Linked DNA regions of Homo sapiens: region 2 is linked to region 1. The links come from fine-mapping of genetic effects on gene expression. A gene starts in region 1. The other region holds a variant in brackets. All regions are shown on one strand. Distances are between the middles of the regions.

Region 1 (4,387 bases):
GAGGAGGGGTCCCTCCTCTACTCTAAGCCCTTAGGATCAGCCAGAGAGAATACAGCTATCTCTAGTACTCTTCCTGACCCCCTAGGCTATGTTAGCTGCCCCCAGACATGTGACCAAGTATACATATAGTACTTGTCATTCTTCTCCTCTAGACTGTAAGCTTTAGGCAGGCAGGAATCTCTATTGTTCTGACTTTATCTGCAGCATCTGAACAGAGTCTGGCACATGATAGATGTTTCGTAAATGTTGATTGACTGAGTGACTGACTAACTGAACAAATGACTAGATATTTCTCTACTGGTGGTTTTTCTCCCTGTTCAGGGAGAAAGAAAAAGAGCAGTCTTAGAGGCAGAAAGCATCAAGGAGGGAAGCAGGAATGAGAGGAGAGATGGAGGATAAAGAGAAAGGCAGGGAAGAAGCTTGGGGACCTGGTGTCACTTGAGGTCAGCTTTAAGTTATGAGGTCAAACTCAGAGCTAATGGACTTCCCCTAGTCCTTTGCTTTCCATCTAGCTGCATCTTTTTTTCTAGAAATGTTCCCTTTTATTTTTTGTTATTATTCTCAATAATTTTGTCTTTGCAAGAAGAAACAAAAAAGTAGAAAAATAGTTGATATTACAGGTAAAAAAAACATAAATCAACCCATCAAAATTAATTCAGAATTTAAAAGGATGGAAGTCAAAAAGGTTGACTATGAAGGATTTTTAAGTTGGAAACAAAATCTTCATCTAGGTTTTTCTCCAAAGGTCATTGAAAGACCTATAGCCCAAAAAGTTGACCACTTGTTCAACAGGACATGAAAATATGGCTTACCTCACAGCCTTATTTATAATGGCTGGCCTTCCACATAAATCCTGCCTTCTACCTGGACTAATCTGAATCCAGTCATCACCAGATTATTGGTCCCTCTCTCCCCAAAGGTCTGCATAGCTCCCTGTCCTCAGTTACTTCTTGTCTCTTCTCTGAAAGCACACATGCACATTCACACACACACATACACACACACACACACACACACACACACACCCTATCTTTCCTTTTCATGAATCTTCAGGGTAGCTCTGCCCTCTCCACTTTGTGTGTTTGGAAGGAAAGAAAGCGAAATATATGAGATGCCAATGCAATTTCTCCTTTAGCAGAGCTCGGTAGGACAATTACCCACCCAATCTGCCTGGTTTTATAGCTCTCATAACCTTCCTTTATGAACACGCTGTGACAGCCGGATGTGGGCATTGATTATGGCAGCAGTCTTCAGCCACATTCCTATTTAACTGCAAAGCAGAGCTCCTGCCTACCAGCCCAGCACTGGTCATGTGACTTTTTAAATTACTGTATTTATGTAAGCCTTTTCCCAACCAGAGCCTATGTCCAACTGCATCAAAACTGGGGAGGATTTGAGCTTGCCACTTCCCCTCCAGTGGCTCTTTGGCCCTACAGCCTAGGGTCTCTTGCTGGAATCAAACTGGGGCTCTGGGCTTTCTTAGGAGAGGTCTGCAAGAGTTGGGGTGCACAAGAAGCATACCTTTTTCATTATGAAAGAGCTGAGGAAATAGACAATGAAACATGTTGGCAGATGCCAAGGGCAGTGGCTTGGTTCCCAGGGGTTCACCTGGCAATGGTGCCAGGTGCAAGAGATCAGCAAAACTTACAGGATTGGTTGTTGTTGTTGGGGGGCGGGTGTCGGAAAGGAATTTGGGGGAATTAGAGAATGGAGTTGGGAATCACTGCTTGTAGGCCTTCCACTCTGGACCCCAGCAGAATCATATGGACTCTAGCCACTGGGAGAGGGAAGTTTTAGTGTTCCAAAGAAATCCTGGTAGCCTTGCAGGCAGTCTGTCCTGACCAAGGACTCTGCCTGACTGTGCCATGGTGCAGGGCAAGTCTAGCAGAGAAAGCCAGTGTTCTTCAGTTACTGCAGCTCGGCGAAGAATCCCACTGCAGGGCACTAGGGAGGCCGGTCCTGCAGAGGTCAGCAGTAGGAGTGACTGGCTTAATCTATTCGAAAACCTCCTGGAAAGATCCCGAAGACCGTGGACCAAGGTGACCTGCGTGGGTGAGCGATCCATTAGCCGAATGACAGCGCTGCCGCAGAAAGCCAGAAAAAGGATATGCGTGGGAAGCGCAAAAGCGTGGGCTGGGCCTGCAGCAACGGAAAGGCGCCACGCTCGTGAGCGGAACCAGCGTTCCGGGGGCGCTCAGTGTGGGCAGGCAGGAAGCCTGGCTCCACTAGGACACACAGATTCTCTCCTGAGCAGCTGCGAACTATGCGCCCCTTCTACCCTTAAGAGATGGGATGGGAGTCCAACAAACCCAGCCATTGCTCAGACCCCAGCCCTTCTCTCCTCTAAGAAGCAGGTTCACCTCTGCCACCGCACTCGCATTTTTTTTTTTTTTTAAAGCCCGGCCTTTCCTAGGCGGGGTCAAGGGCCCCGCCCACCGAAGCCACGCCCAGTAGCCGCCCCGGGGCGGGGTTCCCCTCGGCTCCCGGCTGCCCTTTCCCCTCCGGCCTCTGCCGGTGCTGCTGCGCCCTGCGGAGCTCCGAACACGTGCGCGTGAGTAAGGACCCAGAGGGGAGAGTCCTTGGAGGTTTCCCAGCCTGGGGAAAGAAGCAGTGCAGGGTGGCTTCTGCCGGGGCACGGGACGAAATTGGGGTTCGTCCCCTCGTGATCCCGAGCTTGGAGGGCATCTGAAAGAGACTTGGGCCTCGGAGTCGTCCCCTGTTTTTCTACCATCCCTCTTCCCTCTTCTCCCTAGGGAGTCCCATAGAGCCTGACTCCGAGAGCCTCGATCTCCCAGGGCCAGAGGCAGGGACTTTGGAAGGTTTGTGAGGAACAAATGTCCGGTGGAACTGAGTCAGCCCCTTTAACCCGAGCCTTGAAAGGGGCAGGCTATTTTTAGATCTGTTTTTAGACCCAGCGAACAATGAACCCTCTCTACTCATTTTCCTGTTCCTCTAAATTATTTGGAGGAAGTCAGGAGTGAAATTTGGGGATGGCTGGAAAAAGGTATGATCTTAGCCTTACATAAATTATAATGGTGACTGTGAGGCCGGGCGCGTGGCTCACGCCTGTAATCTCAGCACTTTGGGAGGCCGAGGCGGGCGGATGACGAGGTCAAGAGAAGAAGACCATCCTGGCCAACATGGTGAAACCCCGTCTCTACTAAAAATACAAAACTTAGCTGGGCGTGGTGTCGCACGCCTGAAGTCGGGAGGCTGAGGCAGGAGAATCGCTTGAACCCGGGAGGCAGAGATTGCAGTGAGCCGAGATAGCACCACTGCATTCCAACCTGGTAACAGAGCAAGACTCCGTCTAAAAAAAAATGGTGACTGTGTAGGAATATTTATTATCATTTGTGCAAACATTTTGGTTATTTTTATTTTTTTTAACGGAGTCTTGCTCTGTTGCCCAGGCTGGAGTGCAGTAGGGCGATCTCGGCTCACTGCAACCTCCGCCTCCTGGGTTCATGCCATTCTCCTGCCTCAGCATCCCGAGTAACAGGGACTACAGGTGCCCGCCACCACGCCCGGCTAATTTTTTTTTTTTTTTTTTTTTTTTTTTTGTATTTTTAGTAGAGACGGGGTTTCACCGTGTTAGCCAGTATGGTCTCGATCTCCTGAACTCGTGATCCGCCAGCCTCAGCCTCCCAAAGTGCTGGGATTACAGGCGTGAGCCACCGCGCCCGGCCTAACATTTTCGTTATTGCTTTTAATCAGTAGTTGAGGTCTTGGCACGACTACTGCCTCCAATTCCCCTCACATCCAATACTGCAGTTATTTTTCCAAGTGCTGTTTTTATTGTCCTTCAGGAAGTATTGGAGGCCCTCCTCTATCCAGTGTTCCCACTGTTCACTGCCCGTTTCTCTCACTGGATAACTTTTCCCTTTTTACTCACTCATATTCACCATCTAAGCCTTTTTTGGAATGTAGCTCCTCAGGTGTTTACTGAGTGCCCACACTATACCAGACATTATCCTGAGGATTAGCTTATATTTCACTTAAGCCTCCCAACCACCCTATTTACAGAGGACTATTAGTAATATCCCCATTCAGCTTGGTGTGCTCGCTCACGCCTGTAGTCCCAGCTACTCAGGAGGCTGAGGTAGGAGAATCACTTGAGCCCAGGAAGTGGAGGCTGCAGTGAGCCATGATTGTGCCACTGCACTCCAGCCTGGGTGGCAGAGAAAGACCCTGTAATATAATACCTCCATTCTACAAATGAGACTGAGGTATAGAGAGGTTTCTCGCCCAGTATCATTTGGCTAGACACTGGTTAGGGGATAGAGCCAGGCTCCCTGATATTTGTTTAATCGACTCTTTTGCTACTATTGAACTGCTGTGGTGTATAAGTAACAAGAGATGAAAACAAAGCTAAACAAGGATAAGCTAT
Region 2 (4,387 bases), 730 kb before region 1:
ATCAACAAGTTATTTTTAAGTAAACAGTTTTTAAAATGTCCAAACACTACAGCAGAAGTTTGCAAGCTCACTGACCTTCAAACAAGGGTTATGGTTATGAGGGTTATCTGACCAAGTGTTCATTGGATAAGAAACACATAAGGTTTCCTAGTGAAGATAAGTGAAGACATTTTAACACCCACAGACACAACCTAACCCAAATTAACACTGTCCATTCCTTTGTCACATTCACCACTGTCCCTGGCTAGCACAGGCTCTAGTTATGATTTTATTAACATTACCTTAAAACTATAAGGTGTCCAACATTATTTCTGAGGCCACCTCTTGCCTGCTCAGAAAACACCAAGGGAAAAAACAACCAATAATTCTCCCCCTTTTTCCAACATACGTTGACCTGTTTTAGTTCCTTATTCAAGATACCCTCAACCACAGTATTGGTTTATGTATACATTTGTCCTTCATAAGCCAACTGTGGAGCATATACCAGGAGCAATCATGAACAGGGAAGAACTACCATCAACTTTAAGTGGGGCCTATGTCTACCAAAATAATTAACTGGTTATTTTACTAGCACACACAAACTAACATTCGACCAGGCTTATCTGAAACCAAATAAGCATGTTCTACCCAAATCAAAAATCAAGTTTATGTGTGACACTCCTTTCAACTCAGAAGATTAAGTATGATGCTGGTTACAAAACAGAATGCTATGAAGTTCCCCATTTTAGTAATGTGGCCTCTATAAATGCTCTTCTACACACGTGTAACATAAAATAGAATCTGTTATAGCTCAGACTACATTTTAAGGAAATCTAGTTTTGTATTTTCTGAAAATAAAATATACCCATTATAGCACATTGGTTTAAGTTCTGAACTCTGCTACATTTTTGCTGTGACATCTTGGACAAATTATCTCTTAGCCTCAGGTGCCTTGTCTACCAAATGGTGGCAATACTTGTGAGGATTAAATGACTTAATAATGTACTGTAGCACAGTCTATAATATAGTATGTGCTTAATAAATTATTTTGCCAACATACTTCCCTTTATTCAGATGTAGTTAGTGAGCCCATTTTGCAGGTGGTTCCTTTTTCAAGCTACATTAAATTTGGGTCATATATCAAGAGATAACCACATAGGATTATCTTAATTTCAAAATCACTCTTATTCTAGCATATTTTAATAACTACTGTTAAAAACAAATCCATGATTCCTATGCCTAGAATTCTACACTGCTAAGGGGAGGAAAGGGCTTTTTCATTTCCAAAACAATACTGTTACTCAACCACTAAGTCTCACTACCTTGTCCTAATAACCATGCCTGAAAACCTCAGTTTCCTCCTGAAAACCAGAGTATCCCCAAAACATCAGCAAATACAGATTCATTTTGCCATCCACTTAAGTCTTTAAAGCCCATTACAATTCTTCTAAAGATATTTTATCACTAGGTAAAGTAGGAATAACATTTTCCACTGTACCCTATCTATGAAAATCTAGAGTCTGACTTTAACACAAGTTGGCAATGAAAATATTCCCACCTCCAAAAACTGGTATATACTGGGGAATCTTCTGACTCCCTTACCAATACTCAGAGATGGCCAAGATTTTAAATTTCCATGGGATCAAGATGCAACCAAATCCTGATTAAAAGCAAAGTAGGACATGATTATTAACCACAATGTGTAGCGGAAGGTCCTCCAGCTATTTTAGACAGCTTAATCATGTCTGAAATATCCAAACTCAACAACTTGAAATACAAGTTGTGTCTTATAACTTCATTTTTAGCATGCTTTAAACTTTACTGAACTTTGCTAAACAAAGAGGTAAAGCCTTCAAAAGCCTTAAAGAGGCGCTTAAAAGTTTCTAGTGGCTAGGTAACATGGGTAGAACAAATTTAAGAATGAGTTTCCTTCATTAAGCAGTAGAAAGGAATGCTGTTACTTATTAAGCAATGTCATCTTCAATGTTACTTCATTCAAACAGGCAAATTATAGTCATGATTTAATTTTTTGGACTGTTTCAGAGAATATAACGTATGCAAATTAAAATGTGTAAACCTGCCTGCTACTGAAAGCAGTAAGAACAAATCCAGAGGTCACATCCACCTATATACAATACTGCAACAACAGCAATCTATAAAATGCAATACTGGATTGAAGGCTTCAAGTAACAAAACAAGATCCTACTGAAACAAAAGAACCTGGCTAATTCTTGGTAGTGCAACATAATGGGTCGTGACCTATGTTACCCTTTCTGTACAGTATTCTCACATTTTGGGAATAACTGGTCACTCTATCATACGGCACAAGTTCCTGTAAGATCATTAAGAAGGTCTGGATATTCTATTGAATTCAAAGAAAAACCTAAGGACTAACAAGCCGCTGTCTTCGATTCATATTAAACTAACGTTTCTCCAGTAAACCGAAGGAGTGAGCACAAGCCCGTCACTGAATGGGGCCAAACTTTTAGAAGCCTCATTCCAAACAGAACTGTCCCTAATTTATTAAGAACAAAACACTAGTAAAACCAACCTGTGAATTGGGCCTTCAGTACAATTAAGCACATCCTGTTTCATATAACAGTAATAATGAAGAGCTTGGAGGGGCTGTCATTCTAAAATTGCAAATCTACCCATAAATGACAATCCTGGGCTGGAAACCAGAATGTCAAATTCTTGTGCTGAAATCAACTTTTCACATGGCCTGAGGCAGGCCATTCTACTATTCTAAGAATGCTCAGACATACAAGTATGTAATAATGTTCCAAACACTTTTTTT[T/TG]GGGGGGGGGGGCACTTCCTGTAAGTAAAAAGTTTCTATGACTGGGAAAGGAACAAAATAAAGTAATAAAAGAAACAGGAATACCCCTGGCACACCTTCCTCAAACGAACAACGTTAAAAAAAAAAGAAAACACACACACACAGCTAATTTTAATCTAGCCTACTCTCCCCCCAATGGACACACCTACAGTTTCTTATCAAAATGTACAAGACTCAAAGCCCATTTAATTCAATTATGAATCTCACTCAACAAGCATCAAGCACATCAGGCGCCTCTCTACAGCGATATCCCCACAAGTTTCAGAGAAATGCCAGCAGGGACTCTGTAGTTATGATTCCTATCAAACGGCCCCCTAACCCGTATTTCTCCTGGACATACACATGCAGATTCATTAACCAAAACCTACCCAGCACCCCTCACATCGCGCGTACGTTGGCATTTTCAGTTTATAGGTGGGTCCTGGAACAGCTAAAACCAGGAAGCTCCGGGGTAATTAGAGGACTTGGGAGAAGTCATCTTGGGACAGGTGGAAGACCCAGAGAAATCAGGAATCAGAAAGAAGCTGTCCCTGGCCACCTCTGCTTCCCGTCCCATCCAAACTTCACCCACCCGGGTCTCAGAAGCCCAGAAGGGAGAGGCCATTTTAATGAGGCCTGGCTGAGAAATGAAGGGAGAAGAGGAAATCAGGGAAGGGCCCTGGGAAAGGAAGGCCGAACACTTTGCCACAATAGCACCCGAGTCGGGTGGCAGCACCTGGAGCCCGAAGAGGGAGGACCTGGACTTAAGGGCCCGGGAGAGGTGCAAAAGTAGCGGTGGCCTACCACGAGGGGGGCCGAGTGATCTAAACCGGGGAGCGCGGGCCCCTTACCCCCATGCGGGGAAAGGACCCCTTCTCGGGCCAACCGCGCCGACCCTCGCCCCTGGGTCAGGGGCTACTACCCAGAGATCCAGAAGGCGGGAGTTGGCTAGTGCCTGGTTCTCCTCATCCGGCCATGCGGCGCGGGGGCGTCCATCCTGAGGGGTCCGGGAACCAAGAGGGCACGGAGGGTGCCGGACGCGGCGCTCACCCGCGGGCCGCCTCCAAGCTCTTAATGAGCTTCTTGATCTTCCAGATCTCCACGTTCCTGTCGGCAGCACTGGGGTCGTCCGCCATCTTCTCGCCTCCTCCTCCCTAGAGCGGCCCGGCGGGGCCCGGAGACACCAAGACCACAGAGTTAGCGCCGCCGCTGGGGCAGAGCGGCCCCCTTCCTCGCCATCCCCCAGAGGCCCTCTCCTCCCGTCCGGTGCAGCTCGCCACAAAGGTCACCGGCCTTTCCCTCCCTGTGCCTTACCTAAGGGCCCAGTCCTGGGCGGCAGCGGCTGCTCCTCCCCGGCGGCGGCTCCGCGGCGGCGGCGGCTCTGACGTAGGACACCGGCTCCCTCTCTCCAGGCAGCTGCATGTGTTGCAATCCGCTCACATGGGGCCTGTGACATCACTTCCTCCGCCAGGGGCGGAGTGGAAGGCGGCAGGCGGAAGGGAGGGGGCCGGTGCGAGTGAGGAGAAGCTGGGCGTCCGCCGCGACTTCTCATTGGCTCTCTGCCCCGCAGCCTACAATGAGCCCGCCGATTGG

Which allele goes with the higher level. Positions count from the first base shown, and alleles are read on the strand shown. Sizes are in standard deviations (SD) of each study's normalised expression.
For the expression in monocytes after Pam3CSK4 of the gene that starts at base 2,491 in region 1, allele TG in region 2 goes with a higher level than allele T (large effect, 1.5 SD a copy in Quach 2016).

What was found.
Region 2: its variant is fine-mapped to the expression of SNHG4 in monocytes after Pam3CSK4 (Quach 2016, PIP 0.95).

What each region holds. Positions count from the first base shown.
Region 1 is chr5:139,271,611-139,275,997 of GRCh38, forward strand. SNHG4 (small nucleolar RNA host gene 4) reads left to right here and starts at 2,491. Exons shown (of 7, transcript NR_182757.1): 1 at 2,491-2,551; 2 at 2,754-3,004. It overlaps LOC124901081 (a long non-coding RNA gene), which reads right to left. Exons shown (of 4, transcript XR_007058956.1): 4 at 1,457-2,044. It also overlaps a transcript of MATR3 not described here. RefSeq lists an enhancer at 1,845-2,194 and a silencer at 2,485-2,564.
Region 2 is chr5:138,538,989-138,543,375 of GRCh38, forward strand. ETF1 (eukaryotic translation termination factor 1) reads right to left here and starts at 4,248. Exons shown (of 11, transcript NM_004730.4): 1 at 4,109-4,248; 2 at 3,845-3,948. The coding sequence starts at 3,930. RefSeq lists enhancers at 3,759-4,387, 3,900-4,387 and a silencer at 4,069-4,118. The variant T/TG (reference allele first, on the strand shown) is at 2,777.